4 linked regions of the Homo sapiens genome follow. The protein of the gene in region 1 interacts with the protein of each later gene in a pairwise test. Each region holds a gene or a part of one and is shown in the gene's direction. Other genes may lie near its edges. The genes, in order: ELAVL4, ZNF232, EYA3 and NETO2.

What was found.
Region 2: the proteins of ELAVL4 (region 1) and ZNF232 interact in binary tests that used the Homo sapiens proteins (3 or more experiments, as listed by UniProt).
Region 3: the proteins of ELAVL4 (region 1) and EYA3 interact in binary tests that used the Homo sapiens proteins (3 or more experiments, as listed by UniProt).
Region 4: the proteins of ELAVL4 (region 1) and NETO2 interact in binary tests that used the Homo sapiens proteins (3 or more experiments, as listed by UniProt).

What each region holds. Positions count from the first base shown.
Region 1 is NC_000001.11:50,139,912-50,146,935, forward strand, and holds part of ELAVL4 (ELAV-like protein 4), read left to right. Parts: intron 1-1,860; exon of another isoform or gene 1,861-1,941; coding exon of another isoform or gene 1,942-1,947; intron 1,948-5,045; coding exon 5,046-5,286; intron 5,287-7,024. UniProt on the Homo sapiens protein: RNA-binding protein that is involved in the post-transcriptional regulation of mRNAs. Plays a role in the regulation of mRNA stability, alternative splicing and translation.
Region 2 is NC_000017.11:5,108,870-5,116,462, reverse strand, and holds the start of ZNF232 (zinc finger protein 232), read left to right. Parts: upstream 1-4,584; 5' UTR 4,585-4,640; coding exon 4,641-4,663; intron 4,664-5,243; exon of another isoform or gene 5,244-5,387; intron 5,388-6,594; coding exon 6,595-7,069; intron 7,070-7,410; coding exon 7,411-7,537; intron 7,538-7,593.
Region 3 is NC_000001.11:28,085,603-28,093,221, reverse strand, and holds the start of EYA3 (protein phosphatase EYA3), read left to right. Parts: upstream 1-4,611; 5' UTR 4,612-4,698; intron 4,699-7,619. UniProt on the Homo sapiens protein: Tyrosine phosphatase that specifically dephosphorylates 'Tyr-142' of histone H2AX (H2AXY142ph). 'Tyr-142' phosphorylation of histone H2AX plays a central role in DNA repair and acts as a mark that distinguishes between apoptotic and repair responses to genotoxic stress.
Region 4 is NC_000016.10:47,077,946-47,084,969, reverse strand, and holds part of NETO2 (neuropilin and tolloid-like protein 2 isoform 1 precursor), read left to right. Parts: intron 1-1,168; coding exon 1,169-1,749; 3' UTR 1,750-7,024. UniProt on the Homo sapiens protein: Accessory subunit of neuronal kainate-sensitive glutamate receptors, GRIK2 and GRIK3.

The sequences.
Region 1 (7,024 bases):
CAAACCATCGACATTTACGATGACAGGATTTGAGTGCCTACGTTATTGTGCACCGCTCTAATAGTTTATCCCTGAAATTTTCTGCCTGTATAATGTTTCTTAAAATATATCACAGAAACATAAAAGATTTAATGTAGTGCTTTGTACATCCATTAGAGTTCGAAGTCAACTGAACCTCCTCAATGATCTATCCTGGATGCTGACTGTAATTCTGTTCTTAATTGCTATTCAAATGAGGAAAGGAGGGCAAGTCAGGGGCTTGGAACCTGGTCAGCTGCAAAGTTGGCTGTGAGACCCACACAGAATGTTTCATTAAAGTACATATGCACACTTGAGTAACTGATATATTTATTTGCAATGAAAATTGTGCTGTTAGAATATCAAAGGCGTTAGCCTGAGGAAGCAAGTGTTCTGATTTTGCCCAGCCAGCCTCTGTACTTACTGGAGGATGTGCTTTCTACCAACACACATCTTTTCTACTCCTGTTCTGTCCCTCTGTTTCCCAAGCAGAGAGAACAGGTGTCCTGTCTTTGAGGTCTATCATGTAACCTTAAAATGCTGTAGTTTCATATTCGTGCATTTAATATCTTTACATCTTGGCAACTTCTCTTATTTTCCAGGTAATGTTTTAAAATCCTCTTGTTTCATTCACATGTCAGATTTGATTCTGATGTTTTACATTTCTGATTTTTTTTTTCAGCCTGTGTTGCATCCTAAGATGCATCATTAAGACCTGTGAGGGGTCTTATTATAGGATGTATATTAACACATTTGCAAATGTTTCTCAGCTTTCAGACAGCACACTTTTATTGAGAAAACTCTCTTTGTATGTGTCCATTTGTGTGTTTTCATCAGTTCCTTCTGGATACACAAAAGAATAACTGTGTAGTGTAGATGCAGAGCAAAGAGAGCTCCATCTACATTGGATGAGAATGACTTGACCTAATTTATAGATGTGGTCAGCTAAAGTAGCTCAGTAGTGAGCATTGTATCTCATGGCTCCTTTTAGAAGCTAGTTGGGACCAGTTGGGCTGTCTAATCTACAGACAGGACTCACCTCCTGGAGTCAACATAGATTAGGAAATCCACATAGAATGCAAGGAAGGCCACAAAGCTGATGCGGGGACTGAAATTACTTTGCTGCAGCCTTGTTACTTCACAGGCCTTCCTGGAGGAGGTGGACCTGTGAGATGTTCACATGGACAAGTGCTGGCTTTCACCACGTGTCTGAAAACGAAAGATGAACCTGACTATCAGGTGACCTTTATGAGTTTTGGTCCCACAGAATCTCAACATGAAATTCTTCCACATACTCCATCACTAGCACCAAATAAGCTGCCTTGGTGTGGGATATTTTCTAGGTGTTTGTTGGGGAGCTGAAAGAAGGGTAACCTGAAAAAGGTAGAAAACAGAGAAGAGTTTCTAAAGATTGTGGGCCTGGGGGGTTTTTGCCATTAAATCGAATGTAGTAGTCCGGCCTCCTGAATGGATAAATTCTGATTTTCATGTTCATTATCGAGTTGGCAGTGCTTCTTATGTTTGTTGCCTGGACACCTGACTCAGTGAAGCAGTGAGACAACACAGCAAATGGAGGCACTGCAAAGACCCAGAAGGCCCCACAGCTTGGCAGAGCTGAAACCTGCCTCCTAGCCAGGAGTTGTGCTGATGCTCTGTAATGCCATCCCTTTAGCATGCCTCCTTCCCTGGGGACCATCTCCCTGATTCTTTTCCTGGACCCTTGCCTCGAAGGCAAAGTGGCTGAATAGGCTTTGCTGGGTACAACTTCTATCAGTCCTGAGGGGAGCTTGATTTAAGATTCTTCTCAGAAGCTTTTTGCTTTCTCCTTGCTGTCTGGACCAGCCTTCTAGAATCCTAAAGTTGACCTGAAGCCAAGAAGAAAATTCTGGTGATGGGAGAAGTGGAGCCACTTAAATTACTTACATGATGGTAAAGAATCTTAGATGCTCCCCATCTTTCTTAGTCTGCTTTATTTCCTTGGCTCCTCTTGAGCCATGTTTTCCTTTTTGTTTCATTTATCATTTGTGACCATCAGAAGATGAAAGAATTAGAATAACACTCACCTACGTGGGGCATGATGAGGAATAATAGTTATGATGCCTCTGGGCCCTTTGTATTTTAGACATTTAATGTACATTATCTCTCATCCTGAAGATAACCCTGCGTGGCAAGCTTTTTATTCCAGTTTTGCTGAAGAGGAAGCTGAGGCTCAGAGTATTGAAGTAACCTGCCTCAGATCACACAGCTAATAAGTGGTAAAACTAAGTTTTTTGTTTTTTTGTTTTTTGAGACGGAGTTTCACTCCTGTTGCCCAGGCTAGAGTGCAGTGGTGCAATCTTGGCTCACTGTACCCTCTACCTCCCAGGTTCAAGTGATTCTCCTGCCTCAGCCTCCCGAGTAGCTGGGATTACAGGTGTGCACCACCACACACACACAGCTAATTTTGTATTTTCAATAGAGACTGGGTTTCTCCATGTTGGTCAGGCTGGTCTTGAACTCCTGACCTCAGGTGATCTGCCCACCTCGGCCTCCCAAAGTGTTGGGATTACAGGTGTGAGCCACCGCACCTGGCCTAGAACTCAGATTTTAAATCACCTGTTGTCTTGACTCAAACACTCATTCCATTTTTACTATACCACTCTGCTTCAGATGAGAAAATAAACAAAAACAAAAACAAAAAATAGTCTCTGAACATTGATGAGGATGTGGAGCAACTGGAACTTTCATACTCTGCTGGTGGGAATATAAATGGATACAGCCACTTTGAAATACTGTTGGCAGTATCTACTGAAGCTAAATATACATACACCCTATGATCCCAAAAACAGAATCCTAGGACTATCCCCAATAGAAATATGTACATTTTTGTACCAAAATGTTGTACATAACGCTCATAGCAGCATTATCTATAGTAGTTCAAAATTAGAAACAATCCAAATGTTCATCAACAGATAAATAAAATGTAATATTTCCACACAATGGAAATTGCTATAGCAGTGGGAAGAACAATGCATTGTTACATGTAACAGAGCAGATGACACTCCATACATGTGTGAAAAGGCACAAAAGAGTATGTGTTGTATGAGTCCATGTATATAAAGGTAAAAAAATAGGTAAAACAAATCTGTGGACTAGAATTCAGAATAGTGGTTACCTTTGAGGGGTGAGGTAAATGACAGGGATGGAGAACCTGAGAAAGGCATTTGGGGTGCCAGTCATGTTCTGTATTGTGATCTGAAAGGTAATTACCCAGTTGTGAATTGTGTTCACTTTGTAAACATTCTTTGTGTTGTACCCTTAAGATTTATACACTTTATTACATGTATGTTATAGTAAATGAAAATGCTTCCCCCCTAAATCCTCTGAGCAGGCAAATGGTAATAATAATGGAAGCTACTAGTTATCAGATGTCTGCTATGCCTTGGTTTCCTCATCTATAAGACATAGAGAATATTAGAATATGCTTCATTGCCTTCTTGTGAGGAGACAGTGAGAGAAGTCACATTGGATGATTGGCAGAGTAACTAATAAACATCAGTGATTGTGGTTATGTGCCCACCACTGTTCTGGTGCTTTACATAAGTCATATCACTGGATCGGTTCTTACCGCTTTGCCATACGGTGGCATTGTTCCCATTTTTCAAATGAGGAAAATGAAGACTCTTAGGATTTAAGTCCCTTGCCAAGGTCACACAGCTAGTAAGTGGCAGAGTATGATTTCATTTCCAAGGAGTTGATGATCAGTTTCTGAGGAGATGGAAGCCATTTTATGATGGACAAATAGAGGACGGTGTAAGACAAAATGGAAAGTTGCGAATTATGGGCTGCGTTTGGGGCCAGGAAATCCGGGTGCAGGCCTGGACTTTGCCCCCATTTTTCTATGATAACAGAGAAGTAACTGGACATCTCTGGGCTTCATCTCGAATGTGAGTGTTGAGCTAGATTTTGTTCCCTTATGTGCCTTCTGGCTCTGCAATTTTGCAATTCTCCATGTTTGTCATTCCATACAGGGCATCTTCATGACCTGACTTCATGAGCTTAAACTCATTTTTCATATAAAACCCTATTCCAGCATTTTCTCAGAACTGTCCCTAAATCTCCCTATCCTATAAGCAGAAGTAATTGCTTCTGTATTGCATGATCACTGCCCTATACCAGCTGTTTACCTGTCTGTGTCCTCTATAGACTATAAGCTCCCTGAGGATAGGGATTCATTCATTTCTTTATTCTCATACGTGCTACCTGGAACATTCACACCAGCCAGAAATCTTTGTTTAATTAAATATTTTAATCAAGAGAAAGTCCTTTTTGAGTAATATGTGAGTGGACAGCCTCAGGCGGTGCTGGACCTAACGTGGAGACCTAGAGAAAAGTTTGCCTCCATGTTTTTTGTTTTATTAGAGGTCTGGGAGAAACAATAACAGAATGGCTAGATTAAAAAAAAAAAGACATTAGATGACTTTGCAGCTCCCTAGAATGTACCTGTAAAATCTAAAATTTGATCAGTGATTAAGCATCAGTGAAAATTTAAACCCTTCCCATATTGAACAACCCCACTTAATTTAATGTCATTTTATTTTATGAGATAGTTAATAAACAGGTACTGTATTTGATCTTGTGAGTGTAGTCCTCTATATTTAGCTTTTTCAGCTTTAATGGAACTATAATTTTAATCATGATTATTACTTTACATTTTAATTATAATTTGGTGTGGCTTAAGTATACATTTCTGAGAGTGATTGTGTAATGAAAACAGGAATTAGCTTTTCATTAACAAAATAATGGGAGAGTTCCTACTGCATTCTAGTCTGTGTTCAAAATCTATGGGCTGGCCTAAAAATAGAAAGAGGAGTTTAACATTTTGGTTAAAAACATGCTTCTAAATTGGCTGTGTTCACAACCCAGTCTCTTGCTCCATCTTGCTTTATCTTCTTCTCTTTCTTTTCAAAAAAATTAATAAACTTTTAAAAGAGACTTTGTGTCTGAGATTTCAAAAGGCTTTTTCAATTGTTTTTATTTTTATTTAGATAATTAGCACCATGGAGCCTCAGGTGTCAAATGGTCCGACATCCAATACAAGCAATGGACCCTCCAGCAACAACAGAAACTGTCCTTCTCCCATGCAAACAGGGGCAACCACAGATGACAGCAAAACCAACCTCATCGTCAACTATTTACCCCAGAATATGACCCAAGAAGAATTCAGGAGTCTCTTCGGGAGCATTGGTGAAATAGAATCCTGCAAACTTGTGAGAGACAAAATTACAGGTATGCACAGGATTTGAAGCTATGTTGTTCCATTAGATGTGCAGATCTTAGCAGAAATGCACATGTGTGATGGTGCACCTGAATGTCTATATCATGTACCCTGCATGCAAGATGGCATGGATACACAGTCATAAACTCACACTACATACACCACATAAGACCTTATTGTAGATTGGTACTGCTGGGGAGCAGATGAAGATTTTGGTACATCTTCATCTTCATGTAAAATGATCCTTTGATTTTGTCTCCTTTTATTCTTAATCAGCCATTCCTTCCCTTTGTTCTATAGTTTCCAGTCCCACAACTCTGCCCTCCCTATACTATACACTAGTTTTTGCTCATGTATTCTCCTCCTCTCAATATTTGCTTCATGTGTGCCCAGTGTTCTTCCATGTGCCTGAAACAAGTGTTTTAAAGGGGGCCACTGTGGATGTGTGGACAGTTGACACAACTGCCCTTGTCCCTGGGGAGAAACAGGCCCTAAGGATAGCAGATTATTCTGGAATACAACTACTCTGCAGTAGGAGGGAAATGCTTAATGAAGATCTGCATTTGAGGTATTTTGTTTTATTTTATCTGTCTGTTCGTTTTGAAGATACTCTTTGAGATGTGAGGGCATTTTTACTTGAAAGTGAATCAACACCCTATACAACTTCAATACATGAGATTTTTAGGTTCTGATTTTCTCCTAATTGACAACTGTTCATTGAGAACCAAATGTTTGCCAGACACTGACACTATAATTCTTTGGGGGAAAGTTTCCCTATAATCTTATTGGCAGTGAGAATATTTTCTTGGAATATATTAGGCTACATAATGATGGCAGTGAAGCTGCTACTCTCTGATACTCCACTCCTGAAATCATTCATATCCAACTTTGAATACTTGTCAGTTTTGAGTATTGACTTTTGTTTCCCTTTCCCTAGACAGTTTAATTAATCAGCAACTGTCCTAGAGTTTTTTTTTTTTTAAAAAGGAAGCTGCATCATTAAAATAGGGATATACATCATCTTTATTTTAAATCAGAGAATACATTCTATATGTGTGTGTGTAGATATATACATTCTTCTGTTCTCATAATTCACATGTAAATCTGTTCCCCTTATAAATTAAGTAGTTTGCAAAATCATAAAACTTAAATACCACTGCTACTTTCCAAAATACAAGTCACCTAACACTCCAGACATAATTTTCTTATTTGAAAAACTGGAAGATAATGCTTGTCTCAAAGGGCTTATTGTGAGGATTAAATGAGAGACTAGATATATTGCATCTAGCACAATGTCTACTGCACAGTGGTCCCTCAGTAAATAAATCTATTATTGTAAGTACAGCTAGTATGCTTCAAGGAAAGTGGCCAGAACAGAAAAAAAAGTATCTATCAAATTCTCCAAATAGGGCCAGGCTTTGATTATCTTGTACCAGAGCACTGGAACATCTATCCTTAAACAGAATTTCCCATACGTTCAGAAAGCCAATATTTAGATTCCTGAATAATCTTTATATAATAGGATGATAATTCAAACCAAATTAAAACCAGTTAACCATATGATTCTTCCTCCTACTCCTATATAGAAAATGTATTTTTAGTATAGCCTTACCTTCAAAATACAGACTCTGCCAGCTATATTAGTGAATATTATTAATCACCTTTTCAGAATTCCTTCAGAACTGTAGCGAGATTTTTGAGAAGTACTGATTCATGGTGTTGTTCCTTGTTTTCTAAAGACACATGTTT
Region 2 (7,593 bases), on another chromosome or scaffold:
CTCAGACACCACACGAGACGGCGGCTCACATGGGCCAGAAGTGTTTCCCCTCTCCCCCAGCGGCTTGTCTAGGAAAACATGAGGACTCGGTTCGACTCGATGGTGCGGGCCTAAGCCCCGGGAAGCCGGGAGTGGTGAGGCGGGCCGCCGGGAGCGGGGCCGGGAGTGGTGAGGGGGGCCGCCCGGAGCGGGGCCGGGAGTGGCGTCGAGCAGAGAGCCCGCAGGCGGGAAGTCCTCTCAATGAGCGTCTCGAGCGCTGCCCGCGGCCCCTCCTGACTGCTAGTTGGAGCGGGGACAGCATGGGCGCGGCCGCCAAGGTAGCGTCGAGTGAGGGGAAGACTGATGGGCGCCTGGAGACGAGCTCCCACAGCGGCCACGCATTTGGAGCTGGGCGTCGGGGCCCGCCCGTCCCGCCGCGCCGCTAGCTGTCCCCTCTGCCTGGCCTCCGTGCCTTGCGCCCCTTTGTGCCGTCCAGCCCTACAGCTTTGAGGCCCTTTCGGCGCACGCACCCCGCCCCGATCCCCCGGCGCTATCCCAGCCTTGACGGCCGGGGAGGCTTTCCCTAGCCCGGCGCCTCGAGGACCGCCTCAGTGGCCAAAGGCGGCGCGGGGTGCGCCCGGGCTGTGTCCCCGGGAGGCTGGACCGCCAGTCCGCGCATGAGGCCATCTGTGAGGCACGAGTGCAGGAGAGTGAAGGAGACCGGGGCGTGCTGAGTAGGGACCTCCCTCAGTGACTGGAAGGTTATTCATGGGGCCTTCTGACACTCTAAAAACGAAATTTCTCCGGGGTTTGATGAGTATCAGGGTGGTGGCTTCTTGAGTTTTGAGCAGGCATCACAAATCAATCCCTCTGGAATACAGAACTGCCTCTGTTCCGTTTTGGGTTTTGTGTGTGTGTGTGTGTGTGTTTTTGGAGACGGAGTCTTGCTCTGTTGCCCAAGCCGGAGTGCAGTGGCGCCATCTCGGCTCACTGTAACCTCCGCCTCCCGGGTTAAAGCTGTTGTCCCGCCTCAGCCTCCCGAGTAGCTGGGATTACAGGCGCCCCCCACCACGCCAGGCTAATTTTGTATTTTTAGTAGAGAGAGGGTTTCACCATGTTGGCCAGGCTGGTCTTGAACTCCTGACCTCAGGTGATCCACTGGCCTCGGCCTCGCAAAGTGCTGGAATTACAGGCACGACCCACCACATCCGGCCCTCTGTTCCTTGTTTCGAAATAACTCAATTAAAAGTCAGAGGCTCACTGGCCACATCTCCTTCCACCCACCCACCGCCCCACCCCCCAAAAGATGCCTCTAGCAAATAAAATGAGACGTCCTGATGCCTTCCTGGCTCGTTCCAGAATTTTTAGCTTTGACTTTTGACGTGGGGTCCTTCTACCTAAAGTCCCCGCCGTCACATCAGCCCCCAGTTTTCCTCTGTCTTAGCTCGGGCTGCCGTAACAAAATACCATAGACTGGATGCCAGACAACAGAAATTTATTTTCTCAGTTTTGGAGGCTGCAAGGCTGTGACCAGGGCCCAACATGGTCAGGTTCTGGTGAGAGCTCCCTGGCTGCCTTCTCACAGGGTCCTCACATGGCAGAGAGAGAGGGACCCAAAGCCCTCTGGTGTCTTTTTTGTTTGTTTGTTATTTTTTGGGACGGAGTCTCACACTGCTGCCAGGCTGGAGTGCAGTGGCCCGATCTCGGCTCACTGCAACCTCCACCTCCCAGGTTCAAGTAATTCTCCAGCCCCAGCCTCCCAATTAGCTGGGATTACAGGCACCCACCACCACACCCGGCTAATTTTTGTATTTTTAGTAGAGAGGGGCTTTCACCATGCTGGCCAGGCTGGTCTCGAACTCCTGAGCCCAGCTGATCCACCCGCCTCGGTTTCCCAAAGTGCTGGGATTACAGGCGTGAGCCACTGCGCCTGGCCAGAACTCAGTCCTTACAGAACATCAGAGAATCCATACAAGGTGAGAGAGAGGCCTTATAAATGCATTGGGTGTGGGAAAGATTTGAAGGGGAGCTCACAACTTATTCAGCATCAAAGAATTCACAGTGGAAAGAAACTTTGTGAATGCAATGAATGTTCAAAGACTTGTAATCAGAGCTCACACTTTATTCGACATCATAGAATTCATAGTGGAGAAAAGCCCTATGAATGTGACAAGCATGGGAAAGCCTTCAGATGGAGCTCAGACCTTGTGAGGCATCTGGAAATTCATATTGGAGATAAAGTTTTGGAATGTAGCGAGCGTGGAAGAATTTTCAATCAGAGCTCAGGTCTAATGCAGCACCAAAGAAACCATACAGAATCATAACCCTAGGAAGACAGTAATGATAAAGATGTCAGTATGTACATATAGGAAGAGAGAAGGAGAGTTTGTTTTTGTCCTAACTATTTGGAAAATTGTAAGCTTCCTAAGAGCAATTTTCATCTGATTCAGTGTATAGTACTTAGTCTCAGGTCATGTGCAGATATGTCCTTCCCAAATGCTTACCACAAGATAAATCAGAAATCTTGACTGGAATAAGCTTCTAGTTCCTTTGCTTTATCATGAGAGGTTCCACACCACAGGAAAATCTTGTAAATGGTGGAAGCTGCATAAAGCACCATCATCATCACAAAATGGTGTCCTTGTGTGTCCTGTTTAGCAGCACCGAGAATCTAATAGCTTTCCCCTTGTCTGTTTTTCCTTACTATGAATTGTGCCAGGGGAACAGTAAAATGGGTATGATATCCTGAACTCTAGGGTGGATGTCTTTCTGGGACAGAATCTAATCCAAAAGTCTGCAAATGGACTTGAGGTTTTCACATTAGTATAAATGTCAATATGTAGTTTAGGGAATTTGCCTTATTCCTCCATTCCTAGCAAAATTAGATACAGAAGCAGCTAATTAAATCAGGAAAAGGAAACTGACAGTAAGTCATAGGACCCATTGTCTTCTCTCATGTAAAAGTAGAAGTTGTGATTCAATCTGTTCTGTAGGATTTAAAAGTATAATGGCACATTGAAGTTTGACATACTGAAATTCAGGCTCTGTCAATTTCATCTCTGTAACCTTTATTGTTTCTGAGTCTTGAGTTTTCTCATCTGTAAAATCAAGATAATGACATTAATACAATCCCTTGTGGAGCAACTGTGAAGACTAAATAAGACAATTTCATTAAGTTCCTGGCATAGTTCTAGACACGTAGTAGACATTCAACAAATGATAACTATTTTTATCCATAGCTCCTACGTGCAGTAATTATCAATGGCACTTTGAAGGAAAAAAGATAATATATCCCCCAGCCATGGGGGTGTCAATGCGCATTTTCAAGGATACTATATCTTGGAGAAACAAATTTAATAATCTGAGAATCTGAGAACTGTTACTATGGTACTACACAGTTGAACAACAATTTTTCTTGGAGAGACTAGGATTAAGCTATTTTATAAAAGTATTGAGAGACTGGATCAATCAATATCCTGCAAAATTGATAGTGAGATAAATTTATTTTTAATTAATTTTTTTTTTGAGACGGAGTCTCACTCTGTCGCCCAGGCTAGAGTGCAGTGGCACAATCTCAGCTTATTGCAACCTCTGCCTCCCGGGTTCAAACGATTCTCCTGCCTCCTGAGTAGTGGGGACTACAGGCGCCCGCCACCACGCCCAGCTAACCTTTTTGTATTTTTAATAGAGACAGGGTTTCACCATGTTGGCCACCATGTCTCAAAAAAAAAATAAAAAATAATCGGCCGGGCGCCTGTAAACCCAGCACTTTGGGAGGCCGAGACGGGCGGATCACGAGGTCAGGAGATCGAGACCATCCTGGCTAATATGGTGAAACGCCGTGTCTCCTACCAAAAAAAAAAAATTAGCCGGGCGTGGTGGCGGGCGCCTCTAGTCCCAGCTACTCAGGAGGCTGAGGCAGGAGAATGGCGTGAACCCGGGAGGCGGAGCTTGCAGTGAGCCAAGATCGCGCCACTGCACTCCAGCCTGGGCGACAGAGCAAGACTCCGTCTCAAATAAATAAATAAAATAAAAAATAACAACAACAAAAAAACACCAACCCCTATTTCCCCCATCGCAATAAAATTAACCTTAGAATTCTTTTTTCTCCTCCCCTCCCCCTACGCCCCAGGAATTGTACAGGCTAGTGGTTGGGGAATATTTTTTCGTGGAAGGGACCGTCTTCCTTAGCTGTGGCCCTCTCATCAGGTCTGGGAAGAGGTAATTGGAAAATAGAACTCATGGAGAAGTGTTACCACAGGCCATGGACAAGGCCAGAATTTCCCTGACATCTGTCCGCCAGCACCGCCCTTCAGGTACAATTCCACAAGAGACCCCCCAAACTTGATGAAGTCACCCGCTTACAAGGGCTCACTCTCCACCTGCGCAAGGACTGCAATTCCCAGGGGCCTCCAGGGCACCCGGCCGCTCCAGTCCAGTCGTGCAGGCGGCGCGCTCTTTCTCGCTCCGCTCAAGTCCAGGAACCGGTTCCCGGGCTCCCAGCCTCTCGGCAGCGCCCACGCGCCTGGGCCAAAGTCCGCGAACGGAAGCCGGCGGCGAGGAGGATTCTGGGAGTTGGAGGCCGAGGCTGCGACCTGCGCAGGCGCAAACCTGCCCCTGGGGTGAGGGCTGTAAGTGGCGCGATTCGCGGCAGCGCCCCGATGGAACCTCCTGGTCCTGTGAGGTGAGTGTTGGCGGCGGCTTCCCCGAGGTCCACCTGGCGGCTTGGCTTTTGCCCGTCCCGCAGGCAGCGGCGGCTCTGCAGTGAGCAGGCCTGGCAGGCAGCTCCGCGGTTGTGTGTGGAGAGGGGTTTGGGTTGCCCGTGGTGCCCGCGCTGCGCTACCTGCGTTGCGTCGCGTCACGTGCCGTGGAGGGGGGTCTTGATGTTCCTCTTCTCTTTTCTCGAGACCCTTGGGTAGGGAGTGAAGGGTGGGAAGGGGAGTTGTACCTGGCCTGGACGACAGCCCCCTCCCCGGGCGGGCACCTGCCCGAGGCCGGGGTAGAGAAGTTTTGCTGGGGCCAGCGGCGCCGGGCATCACCCTGGGAGACGCGAGCTCCGCGTTTTTCCTCGCGCCTCCTTTGTCTTAGGCCAGCGGTCCCCCTTTGTGCTCCTTTCGTGGCCTCTGATGCGTTCCACCTCCTTCCCTGTGTGAAAGGAAAATAAAATCTCAGGACCCCAAACTTACTATGACAAAGGGAAAAGTTAAGCTTGGAAACTGAGTCACGGAAAAAAACTGCTTTTCCTTTTGTTCCTAAACCGATAGCTGCAAGATAGAAAGCAACATATGCCCCCAGGTGGCCTCCCTCACCCTGGCAATGGAAACGAACAGCCGAGCTTCACCGGACAAGACTAGAAATCGTTCCTCCACCCACCCAGAGACAAAGCATATTTGACTTCTTCCTCTACTGTATGTCTACCTTATCTTGTGTAAAATGCAGATTTACTGAGCACGAGACAAATTCATAATTGACTTCCTCTTTTCACGTGCAACATGTGGATTCAGTGAGCTCTAATCAAATCCTCACAAGAATGTGGCCACTTACCTCACCACATACCCTCCCTCTTCTCTCCTCCTTCCCCTCCTGCCAGCTTTCTCCCCATTAAATTGAAGCCCTCAAAACCCTCTTTGGTAAAAGTGCGAGCCACGGATCCTACTGTGGCTTGTGTGTCTTTTTCCTGGGTGCATCCTCAACCTTAGCAAAATAACCCCTAAATTGGTTGAGACCTATCTCAGATGCTTTTTTGGTTTACACCTGTTAGATTTCCTTGACGCAGGCCACTGTACCCGAGACTTGTTCATAGCTGCCCCTTAATAGGGCTTTGGCATTTGAATGAGATCCAGCTCCTTAAAGGGGACTTATATTTTTCTTTTGCTGTAGCTACTACTTCAGAAATTTTTGAAAGCAGGGAGGAGCCATCTCAGAGGAGGCTGCCTCCCCAACACATTCCACCTTGCACTGAAAGCTGCTCGGCTCTGGGCTCTGCATCTGGAAACTTGGGTTTTGCTTCAAACTTATTTCTTCCAATAGTCATTTCTTCCCATAGGCCCCCAGAACTTTTTTTTTCTTGATACATTTTTCCTGTCAATGGCATTTAATTAGTTGTATTATAGAAAACCACTTTACATCCCCGTTTCTACCACGGTGCAAGTTTCTCAAAAACATTGACTTAGTGCAGCAGAATTCTGGGGAGGGGTGGAAGAAAAAGCGGGACTACAGGGCATAGGACAGGGTTTGGCTCTTTGGAGTGTTGAGTATATGTATATGTTTAATGAATGAAAAAAGAAGAGGAGGACGGGCGCGGTGGCTCATGCCTGTAATCCTACCACTTTGGGAGGCCGAGGTGGGTGGGTCACCTGAGGTCAGGAGTTCAAGACCAGCCTGGCCAATATGGCAAAACCCCGTCCCTACTAAAAATACAAAAAAATTAGCTGGATGTGGTGGCAGGCGCCTGTAATCCCAGCTACTTGGGAGGCTGAGGTAGGAGAATCGCTAGAACCCCGGGGGTGGAGGTTGCAGTGAGCTGAGATCATGTCACTGCACTCCAGCCTGGGTAACAGAGAAAGACTCTGTCTTAAAAAAAAAAAAGAGGAATGATTTCTTCTTATGTTACAGGGGGCCCTTGCAAGATTCCAGCTGGTATGAGCCTTCTGCAGAGCTAGTGCAGACTAGGATGGCTGTATCACTAACAGCAGCTGAAACTCTGGCCCTTCAGGGTACACAGGGACAAGAGAAGATGATGATGATGGGACCAAAGGAAGAGGAACAGTCTTGTGAGTATGAGACCAGGCTACCTGGGAACCACTCTACCAGTCAAGAGATCTTCCGCCAACGCTTCAGGCATCTCCGCTACCAGGAGACTCCTGGTCCCCGGGAGGCCTTGAGCCAACTACGAGTACTCTGCTGTGAGTGGCTGAGGCCAGAGAAACACACGAAGGAGCAGATCCTGGAGTTCCTGGTGCTGGAACAATTCTTGACCATCCTGCCTGAGGAGCTCCAATCCTGGGTGCGGGGACATCACCCTAAGAGTGGAGAGGAGGCTGTGACTGTGCTGGAGGATTTAGAGAAAGGACTTGAACCAGAGCCGCAGGTGGGAAGGGGGATTTGGTCTGTTATGGGAGCCAGATTGATGACCTTCAGGCTGGACCGAGGGGCAGCTGTAGGGGGAGGTGCCAAGTTCAAACCTCTCTTGGGCCAGGTAGAGCAGTTAGTATGTGTTTCTGTGTCTGTCTTTTCTGCCCTCGAGCCCTGAATGAGAAAGAGACTCTAGCTCCTCTTCTTCCCTTGTGCTGACTCTGAGGAGGCTCTCTAAAGTCTCCTTGGAAGCTTTGGTCCAAGGAGGGTCACATCTGCAAGTGTCCAGGCAGGGGACAGAAACCACACTAGTAATTTGAAGAAAATTTAAACTGAGTGGTGCCTGATCACCTCCAGGTCCCAGGCCCTGCACATGGACCTGCACAGGAAGAGCCATGGGAGAAGAAGGAATCTCTGGGAGCAGCCCAGGAAGCACTGAGCATCCAGCTCCAGCCTAAGGAGACCCAGCCTTTCCCAAAGAGTGGTGAGGAGCAGGATTCTGTGGGGAGGGAGAGGAGAAAGAGGGACTATAAAGGGCAC
Region 3 (7,619 bases), about 22 Mb from region 1:
AATCGATTCTCCTACCTCAGCCTCCTGAGTAGCTGGGACTACAGGCGCACACCACCATGCCCAGCTAATTTTTGTATTTTTAATAGAAACAAGGTTTCACCATGTTGGCCAGGATGGTCTCGATCTCTTGACCTCGTGATCCACCCGCCTCAGCATCCCAAAGTGCTGGGATTACAGGCATGAGCCACTGCACCCAGACAGAATTTCCTGCCTTTTTAAGGTTGCATAGTATTCCATTGTATGTATACCAAATTTGTTTATACATTCATCCATCAATGAACATTTGGGTTGCTTCCATCTCTTAGCTATTGTGAATAGTGCTGTCATGAACATGGGTGTGCAAATATCTCTTGGAGATCCTGCTTTCAATTCTTAGGGATATATACCCAGAAGGGGATTCCTGGATCATACGTTAGTTCTATTTTCAATTTTTTTCAGGAACCACCATATGGCTTTCCATAAGGTTGCACCATTTTACAATCCTACCAACTACTGATTGCTTTTAGAAGGTCAACGATCATGTATATCATAAGAAATTGCCTCAAGTACAATATAGAACATCAACAGAAATAAAATCCAGACCATTGTACTTCATATATGTCAATCAGGAGGGTTTAAATTAATAGCTATTATAAAACACTGATCATACATTCATCATGTCTTTTCAAAATGGAAATATATAAATTAGAGGTCTTATTTTTATTATTTTATTTTATTTTATATATTTGTTTATTTTTCGAGATGGAGTCTCTCACTCTGTCACCCAGGCTGGAGTGCAGTGGTGCCATCTCGGCTTACTGCACGCTCTGCCTCCTGTGATTCTCATGCCTCAGCCTGCTAAGTAGCTGGGACTACAGGTGCCTGCCACCACACCTGGCTAATTTTTGTATGTTTTGTAGAGATGAGGTTTCACCATATTGGCCAGGCTGATCTTGAACTCCTGACCTCAGGTGATCTGCCTGCCTCGGCCTCCCAAAGTGCTAGGATTACAGATGGGAGCCACCGTGCCCGGCCTTTGGATTTTATTATTATTATTATTATTATTATTATTATTATTTTTGAGACAGAGTCTCACTCTGTAGCTCAGGCTGGAGTGCAGTGGCACGATCTCAGCTCACTGCAACCTCCGTCTCCCAGGTCCTGGTTCAAGCAATTCTCTTGCCTCAGCCTCTCGAGAAGCTGGGATTACAGGCACATGCCACCATGCCCAGCTAATTTTTGTATTTTTAGTAGAGACGGGGTTTCACCATGTTGGCCAGGATGGTCTCGATCTCTTGACATCATGATCCACCTGCCTCGGCCTCCCAAAGTGCTGGGATTATAGGCGTGAGCCACCACGCCCAGCCTGGATTTTATTCTTAAATGACTGTAAAGACACTAGAGCACCAGCAAGGTACAGCTTCTGCTCTGGGGAGGAATTTGCATGCTTTCTTGTAGCTCTGTTTTAGAATCATAGCTGTCACATAATGATATTTTGGTAAATGATAGAATGCATATATGATGGTGGTCCCATAAGATTATTTAATATTTTTACTGTACCTTTTCTATGTTTTTATATGTTTAAATACACAAATACTTGCCATTGTGTTACAATTGCCTACAGTATTCAGTACAGTCATATGCTATACAGATTTATAGCCTAGGAGCAATAGGTTATACCATATAGCTTAGGTGTGTATAAGTCCATTTTACGATGTTCGCACAATGATGAAACTACCTAACGAGGGATTTCTCAGAACATATTCCTGTCCTTAAACAGAGTGTATATGTATGTAAATGCTTTAGGCATAACTTTTCTGGAGCTATTGCATTGATTACTCATGGGCTCCCTCTGGTGGAGGTGGTGGCTCAGTTTGCAGGGTTTCAGATCAGGAAAACCAAAGTAAATGAGCAATTTAGCCCTTCATTCAACAAACATTTACTGAGTGCCTACAGTGTGCCAGGCTCCATTCTGGTGCTGAAAAAACATCCGTGAACAAATCGGACAAACATCCATGGACTCATGGAACTTACATTCTGGCAGGGGGAGAGAGACACTAAGCCAAATTTACAAGCAACTTGTTGGATGGGAAAGTACAAAGAGGATGGTAGTGTTCCAATTTTTAATGTAGTGTCAGGGAAGATCTCATTGAGAAAGTGACATGTGAATAAAGATGTAAATGAGGTGAGCGGATGAATGATGCAGGTATCTGGGGGAAGAGCACTCCAGGCAGATGGATTAAAAAGCACAAAGGCCCTGGGCCTACCTGTAGTTTTGAGGAATGGCAGAGGCCAATGTGCTTTAAGGGGAAGGATGACAGAAGGAGTAGGAGTTGAGGTTAGAGCAGAGCTGTACTGGAGGTGTCAAATCTTGAGGGTCCTGTAGACCAATGTAAGGATTTTGGTTTTTACTCTGAAATAGGAATGCATTGGAGGAAGGATATGATCTAATTAGGGTTTTAACAGGAGCCCATTGCTACTATATTAATAGATTGTGGGGGCCGGGCGTGGAGGCTCACACCTGTAATCCCAGCACTTTGGGAGGCTGAGGCGGGTGGATCACTTGAGGCCAGGAGTTCAAGACCAGTCTGGCCAACATGGCAAAACCCCGTCTCTACTAAAAATATAACAATTAGCCGCGCGTGCTGGCGGGCCCCTGTAATCCCAGCTATTCAGGAGGCTGAGGCAGGAGAACCCAGGAGGCAGAGGTTGCACTGAGCCAAGATCAGGCCAGTACACTCCAGCCTGGGTGACAGAGGGAGGCTCTGTCTGAAAAAAAAAAAAAAAAAAAGATTGTGGGAAGGCAAGAGTATAAATAGGGCACTCACAGTCACTGACTGACTGGTTTATACCAACGGAGGCAGTAAATGGTCAGGTTCTGGACAGATTTTGAAGGCAAATCTTGCAGAACTTGCTGATGGAGTACATGTGGGATATGAGAGAGGAGTTAAGGATCTTAGTAAATGATGTTGCTTAGTACATTGTTGTCATCGGAAGAGGTGATCAAATATACAGTCAAAAAATGTAGAAAAAATAGTTTTTTTTCTGGATTTTGTTATTCGTGGTATTTGTGAGCTAATAAAAATGTTTGTAATTTTTCTCATTATAAAAGGTTCACTTTTATATCTAATATTGTATTTGTAATTTTGGATTTTTTTTTTTTTTAGACAGTCTCGCTCTGTTGCCCAGGCTGGAGTGCAGTGGCATAATCATAACTCACCGCAGCCTCTACCTCCTGGGCTCAGTTAGGTGCGTGCCACCACACCTGGCTAATTTTTCTGGGTTTTTTTTGTTGTTGTTTTGCTTTGTTTGTTTTGTAGAGACAGGGTCTAATTTTGTTGCCCAGGTGATCTCCAACTCCGGGGCTCAAGCAACCGGTCGACCTCGGCGTCCCAAAGTGCTAGGATTTCAGGCATGAGCCACTGTGCCTGGCCTTGATTATTTTAAAGAGGGCCCCCAAATTGAATAAACGTCAAGTCTCCACAAAGCCTGAATTCAACCTTGCTTCTAGCCCATACTTGGGTTGTAATTTAAAATTAACGAAACATTTAAGAATTTTGCTTCCGAAAACAGTGTGCACGAAGTGAATTGTAAGCCTAATATAATATTAAGAATAAACTAAATTTGGGGATAAAAAGATCACCTTGGGGCTCACGCCTGTAATCCCAGCACTTTGGGAGGCCAAGGGATCAACCGAGCTCCAGAGTTGGAGACCAGCCTGGGCAACATGGCGAAACCCCGTCTCTACCGAAAAATACAAAAATTAGCCGGGCGTGGTGGTGCGCGCCGGTAGTCTTAGCTACTCGGGAGGCTGAGGTGGGAGGATCACTTGAACCCAGGAGGCGGGGGTTGCAGTGAGCCGAGATCGCGCCACTGCACTCCAGCCTGGGCGACAGAGCAAGACTCTGTCTCAAAAAAAGAAAAAAAAAAAGGGATGGGCGCGGTGGCTCACGCCTGTAATCTCAGCACTTTGGGAGGCCCAGGCGGGCGGATCACCTGAGGTCGGGAGTTCAAGACCAGCCTGACCAACATGGAGAAACCCCGTCTCTACTAAAACTACAAAATTAGCCGGGCGTGGTGGCACATGCCTGTAATCCCAGCTACTCGAAAGGCTGAGGCAGGAGGATCGCTTGAACCCGGGAGGCGGAGGTTGCAGTGAGCCGAGATCGCGCCATTGCACTCCAGCCTGGGCAACAAGAGCGAAACTCCGTCTCAAAAAAAAAAAAAAAAAAAGATCACCTTGGGCTAGCCTCCCAAATGTCTTCCAAAACTTCCCACTCATTCTCCTTCCCAGTTTTTCTAAATCTACCAAATGCACCCAACACTTCTTACGTTCCTTTTAGCCAGGTAGGGATTACGCGCATTTTTAAAGACCTCCTTAAAAGTGAAGGCTGTAGTACCGTCAGGACTGCCTAGCGCTCACCCAGAAGCTGCTTGTCTCCGAGGCACTAAGAGGGGCGTGGCCATGGGCGTGGCTCGCCGGGCCGGCGGAGTGGGCGGAGCCTAAAAGCTTCCCCGCCCGGTCAGACTCAACACATGCGCCCAGAGGTTTCTAGTGGAACGAGGTGTGGATTGTGAGGTGACTCTGGCCGCTTACTTCCGGTTCCTAGCGATGCGCATCCGGGTCACGCTAACGCCGCGGTTTCCTCCGCTCGATTGGTTCTACTGTGGGTCTGGACTGATCTCCATGTCCTGTTGTGGGGCTTTTACAGCCTTTGGGTGAGTCTCAGCTGCCAACAGGGTCTGAGCGCAGCCGGGCGAGCACAGCGTGAAGGGGGATGGGTCTAGAGTTCTGCCTCGGTCCTTGTGGGTGGGAGTCTCTTCGCCTGTCCCTTGTCACTGCAGTGCTTCACTCACCTCAGCCCTTTCCTTCACGCTGGCCTCGCCTTATTCACCTCAGCTTAGCCTTCTCGCGCTTCCGTGCCTCTGTCGCCTCGCTGTTTTTCCTCAGCCTCATCAGTCCTTTTCCAACCTCGGTTTCTTGCCTTACGCCTCAGCGCTTCTCTCAGCCACTGCCTCTCCTTTTTTCTCCTCCTCCCTTCTTTTAGAACCTCTTTTCCCCTACCCCTGATCTGGGATCTCAGCGTTCTTTCACCTAGCGAGACGGCCCAGCTTCTCATTGTGCTCACTCTTCACCACGAGAAACTGAGCCTCTCCCTAGGGTCCTAGTTCCTTGTCCCCCAACTTTCTTCAGCTTTGATCCTTCCTCCTGGGACCAGTAGGTGACAGTGCTTCTCCTGGGGTTCTTCTGCCTGTCCTTAGCTAGAGGAGAGCTTTGCCAAAGCCCCGAAATGGGAAGACTTCCCCAGCCTGGGGGAAGTTTTGCCTTAAGGCGCCGGGTTAGACTGAACTCTGGTAGCTTCCATAGTTAGGGTACAACAAAGGCGTTCCTAGTTCTTCGCTTTACCTCAGTTTTGGGGCTCTCTCAAGAGCAGCTAACAGGTGGCAGGCACACGGTACTGCTAGCAGTTGGGCTGGCGCGATCTTGTTAATTGACAAGTCATGAAGAAGTTCTGTCAGTTTTGTGTTCCCATGAGAATGGATGTGCACAGCTGAGGCAAAAACGCCAATATTTTGGGACGTTCAGCTCTGTTTTCGGCATGGACGCTTCTTACAGGACACTTGTGATGATAGAGGACAGAATTTGTGGAGAGATCATTAGCCCCAGATTTATGAATTTATTGTGTTGTTTCCGAAAAGTGGTCTGCTGAAGAGTTCACTATAGTAATTTCAAAGTAATCTTTAAACTTAGTATGCACATATGCATTTTTTCATTTTTACTGTATTAAGTTTTCTATTTGTCTTCCTCTTCCTTCATTAGCCAGACTTTACTTAGAATTACATTACTTAGAAGTACATTACTTAGAATATTCTTCTAACTTTTGTATTTTTTTTTCCTTACCATTTCCACCTTTGTAGTAAAACTATCATTTTCTCATTTTGAGATTTAGGGCACCTTTCTTAAATTTCCCTAGAGGTTTAAAGTCATTTATAACATGAAGGAATTGCATTTAATAATGGTTAGTGCTCCCTTTCCCAAATTTTGTGATCTAGAGTATAGGCTTGGGTAATCTTTATTTTTTCCCGATGTTTATAGTGTATATCTAGCACTTGATTGCAGCGGTTTTTGTGTCATCAGTTTCTGTAATCTATAAATTGTGCTTTAAAATGTAGTACTTCAGTATGAACTTAAATACAGCTTTGAGCACCTGCTTATCTTTTGGCTAATTAGCTATAGAAAAATCTTCATTATATGATACATATACATATAAGAGTGTATAGTCCTTGGCTTATTCCAAAATTGGGCTCTCTTCAGCTGTTTTTAGCAAAGGACTTTGGAGCTTGGCCATGTTAGTCCTAGAAGCCACGGAGAAGGACCCTTCTGATTGGCTTTCAGGACTTATCTAACTGCTAAGTGAAGCCTCTTTGAAAGTTTCTTATGTGTACCTCCTCCCCACTACCTAGCTCTAGCTTCTGTCCAACCTGGCCTATTTTCCATCCTTCAAAACAAACCCCAATGTGTATGGCTTACTCCAGCTGCTTCCTTACCTTCAGGTTTGTGGGCTTCATTTAAGCCATGGGAATGCCAGCTTAATTAATGCAGATTAAGATAAGAACATTAAACCCCAAAAATGATGGGAAATCACTCTGTCTTCAAAACAATAGAAAATAATAAAATCTAGTTATAAAGATTATATACCATTGTCACTAGTAAGAAGTGGCACTCTTATTTACAAAACATAAAGAAATTAGGGTTTAGGTCTGGCATGGTGGTTCACACCTATAATCCCCAGCACTTTGGAAGGCCAAGGCCAGAGGATTGGCCAGGAGTTCGAGACCAACCTGGGCAACATAGACAAAATTAGCTTGGTGTAGTGGTGTGCGCCTGTAGTCCCAACTACTCAGGAGGTTGAGGTTGGAGGATTGCTTGAGCCCAAGATTTTGAGGTTACAGTGAGCTGTGATCACATCACTGCGCTCCACAAGGCAACAGAGTGAGACTCTCTTAAAAAAAAAAAAGAAATTACAACTTAAACAGTTAATTTCCAAGGTCATTTTTTTTTAAGTCAAGAAGTCCTATACATGCTCTCAAGAGTAGCGAGTGTTAATTCCATTAAAGCTGTAGGCTGGAAAGCACAATATAGTATTTAGTGGGTCATTTCAGTATATGTCATATATGAATGAGACTATTAGGATAAGAAATCTGTGACATGGATTTTAAAATCCAAAGCCGAAGTCATTTTGCCTTCAAAGAGTGACTAGAGAAAGAAACTGTTTTGTGCAGAAGTAGAAGTTGAAAAGTTTTAGGAGTCTTTTGTTCTTCTAAAATGACTTTGGCCTGTATATTCTGCATTGAAGCCATTAAATGAAATGAGCATCCTGTGTAGTCATTGGAGCAGTTGTGTTCCATGCTGCTGATCTTCAAGCCTGACCCTCCACCTAGCTGCCAAACCAAAACAAACAAACAAACAAACAAACAAACCCAGAGACAGCTTAATGTGTGTTTGTTTTTAAAGCTCAGGAAAAAAAATTACCGTTGATTTTCTACAAAAATTTCTACTTTAGTTGGTAGCCCTAAGGGCTCAATTTAAAATATGTTTCTGCATATTAGTTTTAGGCTTACCAAGTTTTCTTATTTTG
Region 4 (7,024 bases), on another chromosome or scaffold:
TGGGGCAGGGGGGTTGGTTTCAGGATGATTTAAGCGCGTTACATTTATTGGGCACTTTATTATTATTACATTGTAATATATAATAAAATAATCATACAACTCACCATAATGCAGAATCAGTGGGAGCCCTGAGCTTGTTTTCCTTCAACTAGACAGTCCCATCTGGGGGTGATGAGAGACAGTGACAGATCATCAGGCATTAGATTCTCCTAAGGAGCTCACAGCCTATATCCCTCACATGCACTTGGGCTTCTGTCATACTGAATGGGAAAATAATAAGCTGCCTCACTTCTTGACTTTCATATGTTTTGTTTGTTTCTTTACACTGAAATACTTAATACTACTCTATTGGACTTCTGCCTCCAAGCCAGGAGTTTATTTCCTAACAGAAGTAAGCACACTAATAATAATCCATTATTGTTATCCATAATAGGGCTCCTGCTGCTGTGAGAATCTAATGCCACTGCTGATCTGACAGGAGGCAGTGCTGCGGGTAATGCGAGTGATGGGGAGCAGCAGCAGATACAGATGCAGCTTCACTCGCTCACTCGCAGCTCACCTCCTGCAGTGATACCCAGTTCCTGTCTGTGGCCCAGGGGTTGAGGACCCCTGCTGTAAGAGTTCAATAAATATCTTACTGTGGAAAGGTGATCTAATCTGATATGGCTGTCGTAAATACTCGACATGAAGTGTTTTCAGTTAATCATTCAAAAACAGTAGGTCATGATAATATACTGGATGGGTTAGTCTGATGATGTTAGTTTGCTCTCCCTGGGGTCATCAGTAGATGCGGGTATACCTGAACACAGCAGTTGGTCAAACCTACCATAAAGCAGAAAGCTAAACTTGATAGAACAAGAGTATTTATTTGGCATAGTCTATATTTGTATATTTGATTTGATTTGCAGAATGTATGCATTTATGTGTCTTCTGAAGAAACGGACCAAGAACTTTATCTTCTGTAATCTATCAGTACTGCGATTGGTAACTTTAACCAGAAATTATAATAGGGTTGTTTTATTTGTTTAAAAACCTAATTGTAAATTGCATTGTCTGTAGTATATTTGGCCCAAGTATTCTGTTTTACCTAAAAATACCTTACTAATTTGTACCAGGATTCATATTAATGTATTTTGAAAACTTAACGTTTCTCATTTTCTTTCTGCAGAAAAGAAAAAAGCAGGAGTATTTGAACAAATCACTAAGACTCATGGAACAATTATTGGCATTACTTCAGGGATTGTCTTGGTCCTTCTCATTATTTCTATTTTAGTACAAGTGAAACAGCCTCGAAAAAAGGTCATGGCTTGCAAAACCGCTTTTAATAAAACCGGGTTCCAAGAAGTGTTTGATCCTCCTCATTATGAACTGTTTTCACTAAGGGACAAAGAGATTTCTGCAGACCTGGCAGACTTGTCGGAAGAATTGGACAACTACCAGAAGATGCGGCGCTCCTCCACCGCCTCCCGCTGCATCCACGACCACCACTGTGGGTCGCAGGCCTCCAGCGTCAAACAAAGCAGGACCAACCTCAGTTCCATGGAACTTCCTTTCCGAAATGACTTTGCACAACCACAGCCAATGAAAACATTTAATAGCACCTTCAAGAAAAGTAGTTACACTTTCAAACAGGGACATGAGTGCCCTGAGCAGGCCCTGGAAGACCGAGTAATGGAGGAGATTCCCTGTGAAATTTATGTCAGGGGGCGAGAAGATTCTGCACAAGCATCCATATCCATTGACTTCTAATCTTCTGCTAATGGTGATGTGAATTCTTAGGGTGTGTACGTACGCAGCCTCCAGGGCACCATACTGTTTCCAGCAGCCAACCCTTTTCTCCCATCACAACTACGAAGACCTTGATTTACCGTTAACCTATTGTATGGTGATGTTTTTATTCTCTCAGGCAGTCTATATATGTTAAACCAATCAAGGAACTTACTCTATTCAGTGGAAACAATAATCATCTCTATTGCTTGGTGTCATTTATAGGAAGCACTGCCAGTTAAAGAGCATTAGAAGAGGTGGTTGGATGGAGCCAGGCTCAGGCTGCCTCTTCGTTTTAGCAACAAGAAGACTGCTCTTGACTGATAACAGCTCTGTCAATATTTTGATGCCACAATAAACTTGATTTTTCTTTACATTCCTTTTATTTTTCCTTTCTCTAAATTTAATTTGTTTTATAAGCCTATCGTTTTACCATTTCATTTTCTTACATAAGTACAAGTGGTTAATGTACCACATACTTCAGTATAGGCATTTGTTCTTGAGTGTGTCAAAATACAGCTAGTTACTGTGCCAATTAAGACCCAGTTGTATTTCACCCATCTGTTTCTTCTTGGCTAATCTCTGTACTTCTGCCTTTTAATTACTGGGCCCTTATTCCTTATTTTCTGTGAGAAATAATAGATGATATGATTTATTACCTTTCAATTATATTTTTCTCAGTTATACTAGAAAATTTCATAATCCTGGGATATATGTACCATTGTCAGCTATGACTAAAAATTTGAAAAAGATAAAAATTTCTAGCAAGCCTTTGAAGTTTACCAAGTATAGTCACATTCAGTGACAGCCCATTCATTCCAGTAAAGAATCATTTCATTCACTTTGGGAGAGGCCTATAATTACATTTATTTGCAATGTTTCTCTTCGCTAGATTGTTACATAGCTCCCATTCTGTTGGTTTTGCTTACAGCATATGGTAACCAAGGTTAGATGCCAGTTAAAATTCCTTAGAAATTGGATGAGCCTTGAGATTGCTTCTTAACTGGGACATGACATTTTTCTAGCTCTTATCAAGAATAACAACTTCCACTTTTTTTTAAACTGCACTTTTGACTTTTTTTATGGTATAAAAACAATAATTTATAAACATAAAAGCTCATTGTGTTTTTTAGACTTTTGATATTATTTGATACTGTACAAACTTTATTAAATCAAGATGAAAGACCTACAGGACAGATTCCTTTCAGTGTTCACATCAGTGGCTTTGTATGCAAATATGCTGTGTTGGACCTGGACGCTATAACTTATTGTAAAGACCTTGGAAATGTGGACATAAGCTCTTTCTTTCCTTTTGTTACTGTATTTAGTTTGTGATAAATTTTTCACTGTGTGATATTTATGCTCTAAATCACTACACAAATCCCATATTAAAATATACATTGTACCTGACCCTTTAATCATGTTATTTATGCCACCAAGGTTGTGGATCTTAAGGTATGTATGGAAAGGAACTCATTTATCAAATTGTAAGTAATACAGACATGCCATTTAAAAGAGGTAAATTCTTGTTTTCTATATTTTGTTAGTAAATTCTCAATGAAATAAGTTGAAGTTTCACTGGATTTCATTAACTTTTAAATATTACATATATGTGTTTTCTCAGATTAGTGAAAATTGTGACCTTAAATTTAATACACATATACTGCCTCAGAGTGCTTTCTTGTATCAAAATTTTTGTTTTTTAAAAAAGTAGATAATATTTAGGAGACAGAAAAACCTATACATAATGTATTCATGATTTAAATTTTTTTAAGTCAGCCTAGTTTCTTGTTTTAAAAATATAACGTGGAAACATGAAAAGACTTGATGCATATAATATTCAATGAACTAATACCAGAGACAGCTAAGTTTTTTCAGTAGTTATGCTGAATAAGCATTTTAGTAGGTAACTTACACCAGCTAACATTTGAACAGCATAATAAATACTTAATATAACAACAACTATGATCTTATGATGATAAAAGGGAAGTTAGCATATTTTCTATGTAAAATTATTCATTTTTTAAAATAGCTGTTAAACCTATATTTAATCTTTAGATTATAATAGCAAATAATACAGTATGCTAAACTATAGTCACTTGTAACTACATTTTTGTTTTTGAAATTTGATTTCTATTTATAAGGTCTTGAAGAGGCCTACAAAATACAGAGCCTTTAAAGAAGACATAACAGTAAAATAGAAGTACACAGTTTTATACGAGTCAATGTAGCAAGTAACATTTAGACAGTAAGTTTGGTTCTGAATTTTCTGGCTGCTAAAACACTTTTTGCTTTTCACAGTAAAAAAACTTATGTGCAGAGGCTAATTTCCTCTTGAACTACAGCATGAGGGTCTGTATATAGGAACATTTCTTCAGAATGTAAAAAAGATGCAAAATGGAGACAGAGGTTATAATGGTGCTTCTTAACCCAGTGAAGGCACAACTTAATGTCGTCTAGGAACATTGGTTTAGGGTCAGTCTGTATTTTCAGGGATAGAACTAAAGAACCAGATGATCAATAGCTAAGCCAGCCTTAGCCTGTCACATGTTATACACCTTCATTGAATCATAGATGGGCATTAGATCTCATTTATTTATTAAACTTCTCTATGCTTTTGGAAGAGGTAAGAATGGAACTAATAAATCTTAGGCATTATTGCCAGAATAATGCTAATTGCTGTATATACAGCCTTTAATCTTTGAGATCAGTGAGAAAACTTTATAAATTGCTTACTAAAATGAAAGCCATAAAATTTAATAACAGAAGACATGAAATTTAGCAATCTTGTGGAATTCATTACACAGTATTAACTGTCACGCAGGGTACCCCACACAGTGTCCCAGTGTTGAACACAAAATGCAAATCTGGAAGGGATAAATATCTTCAATTCAGAAACAGCATTAAGTATACCTGTATAATACTGTCACCATTATCTTCCATCTGCAATTCACCGCATCATCCCCCAAATGCCCACAGATCTATTGCAGGAAACCTACTAATCCCAACATCTAAAGCATGTAGGAATAAGATGTGATATTCCTTTTGTGTGTGGGGAGAGTGTCAATCTAAACGTTTAACAAAAGGCAAAGAATGTTCACATTTCACATCACAAAAGAGATTTCAAAGACTCCTTTAACCCGACAGCGCTTATGTCAGTGTCTTTGTCATGTTTCATAGAATTGTTAGACTTTAAAAGAACCTCCTGAAAGTCTGCCTCTGAACATTTGTATGGTTCTGCCAATGTCTGATGAGAAGAATGCTTCCCTGTTTGAGGAGTGTGTTCACTGATGAGAGGGGACGGGAGAAGCCTGGTTGTGATTTCAGGAATAATTCTCAAAGGAGATTATACTCTTATTGCAAAATGGGGTCTGCTATATATTGTTCATGTCACTTTATTGCAAGTGACATGAATTATATGACATTAAAAATAATATGCCTTGAATCACACTGATTAGACCCAGAAGGATCATTGAGTTTTTGGTGGTTTTAAAGATCCAAGAAAGACCTATCTAGCCCAAGTGTATGAATGAGAAGACTGAAGCCCACAGAAGTGAACTCAGCACCAGTGTCTCAAGAACCCCAGTACTCTGGTTTTTTTCTTTTTTGAGACGGAGTCTCGCTCTGTCGCCCAGGCTGGAGTGCAGTGGCGCGATCTCGGCTCACTGCAAGCTCCGCCTCCCGGGTTCACGCTATTCTCCTGCCTCAGTCTCCCAAGTAGCTGGGACTACAGGCGCCCGACACCATGCCCGGCTAATTTCTTGTATTTTTAGTAGAGACGGGGTTTCACCGTGTTAGCCAGGATAGTCTCAATCTCCTGACCTCGTGATCCACCCGCCTCGGCCTCCCAAAGTGCTGGGATTACAGGCGTGAGCCACCGCGCCTGGCCTTCTGTTTTTGTTTTTCTGTTTTTTTGTTTTTTGAGACAGAGTCTCGCTCTGTCACCCAGGCTAGAGTGCAGTGGCGTGATCTCGGCTCACTGCAAGCTCCGCCTCCCGGGTTCATGCCATTCTCCTGTCTCAGCCTCTCGAGTAGCTGGGACTACAGGCGCCCGCCACCATGCCCGGCTAATTTTTTGTATTTTTAGTAGAGACGGGGTTTCACCATGTTAGCCAGGATGGTCTCGATCTCCTGACCTCGTGATCCGCCCGCCTCGGCCTCCCAAAGTGCTGGGATTACAGGAGTGAGCCAAGGCGCCCAGCCCAGCTGTACGTTTTAAAAGTCAAGCACTTCTGTTTAGCAGCCCATGTAAGCTTGTCAATCATTCTGAATTGAAATGTAATTTATTCTGTAATTTCTTCAATGCATTATATTTCCCCTTTTCTTTAAATGTATGTAACATTGTGTTCTACAGTTTTGCTGCCATGATTCCTTGGCACCGTGAATTCTTACTAAGCAATGTTTGTTAACAGTATACAGGCTCGATACTAGGCAGGAAGAGCTCCTGTGTTCTTGCTTTTTTGATCTTTTTTAAATCTAAAGGAGACGTGTATTCTAGAAATTAAATATTTGTGTGCCATATCTCTTGAGTTTTGGAGAATGATTGGAGTTTGAGTTACTGTAAATAACAAGATTATCTTGGATATTTTAGTTTTCTGCAAAATCACTTATGTTTTATATACCTCTGCTAATAATTCAAAACTCTGAATTTGCTTTACTTTAACTTTTTAAAAATGTATTTTTGCAATTGGTTTAATGACTACCAAAGCCTAAAAAGCTAATGACTAGGGTGCATGTTTAGTATGCACTGTCTAGTGTAAGCTTTTTAAAAGCAGTAGATTTTTATTAGAGATGAACTTCCAGGCCATATGAGAATATGCTTAATCCTAGATTTGGCATTTTATAGAAAAGAATTTTGACTCTTGAACTAGAATTAAAAACTTGTTCTGATTTCCTTGCTTGCCTCAATTTCTAAAGTCTAGAAGTGGCAAATAATTTAGATCACTTATACCAACAGAATCTGTATTTCCTTCCGGGGCAAAGTTGGCATTTCCTATCCACTAGCTTCCAAAATACAATAATCCTAGTTATGATAAGGGCAACTTTATTTTATTACACTTAGAACCATTTTATGTTTTCAAATTCATTAATCTTCAAGTGAAGATGAACTAAAGAAAAAAATGCGTTTTGTCCCAGGTTGCCTGCAGGTTGCAGTCTGCTGCATCCGGTCACTGAAGAGGCAGTGAGGACTGTCACAGAGTGGGCTGGAGAGCCAAGCTGTTCTTTCGGGGTGCACAGTGCACCAGCCATAACACAG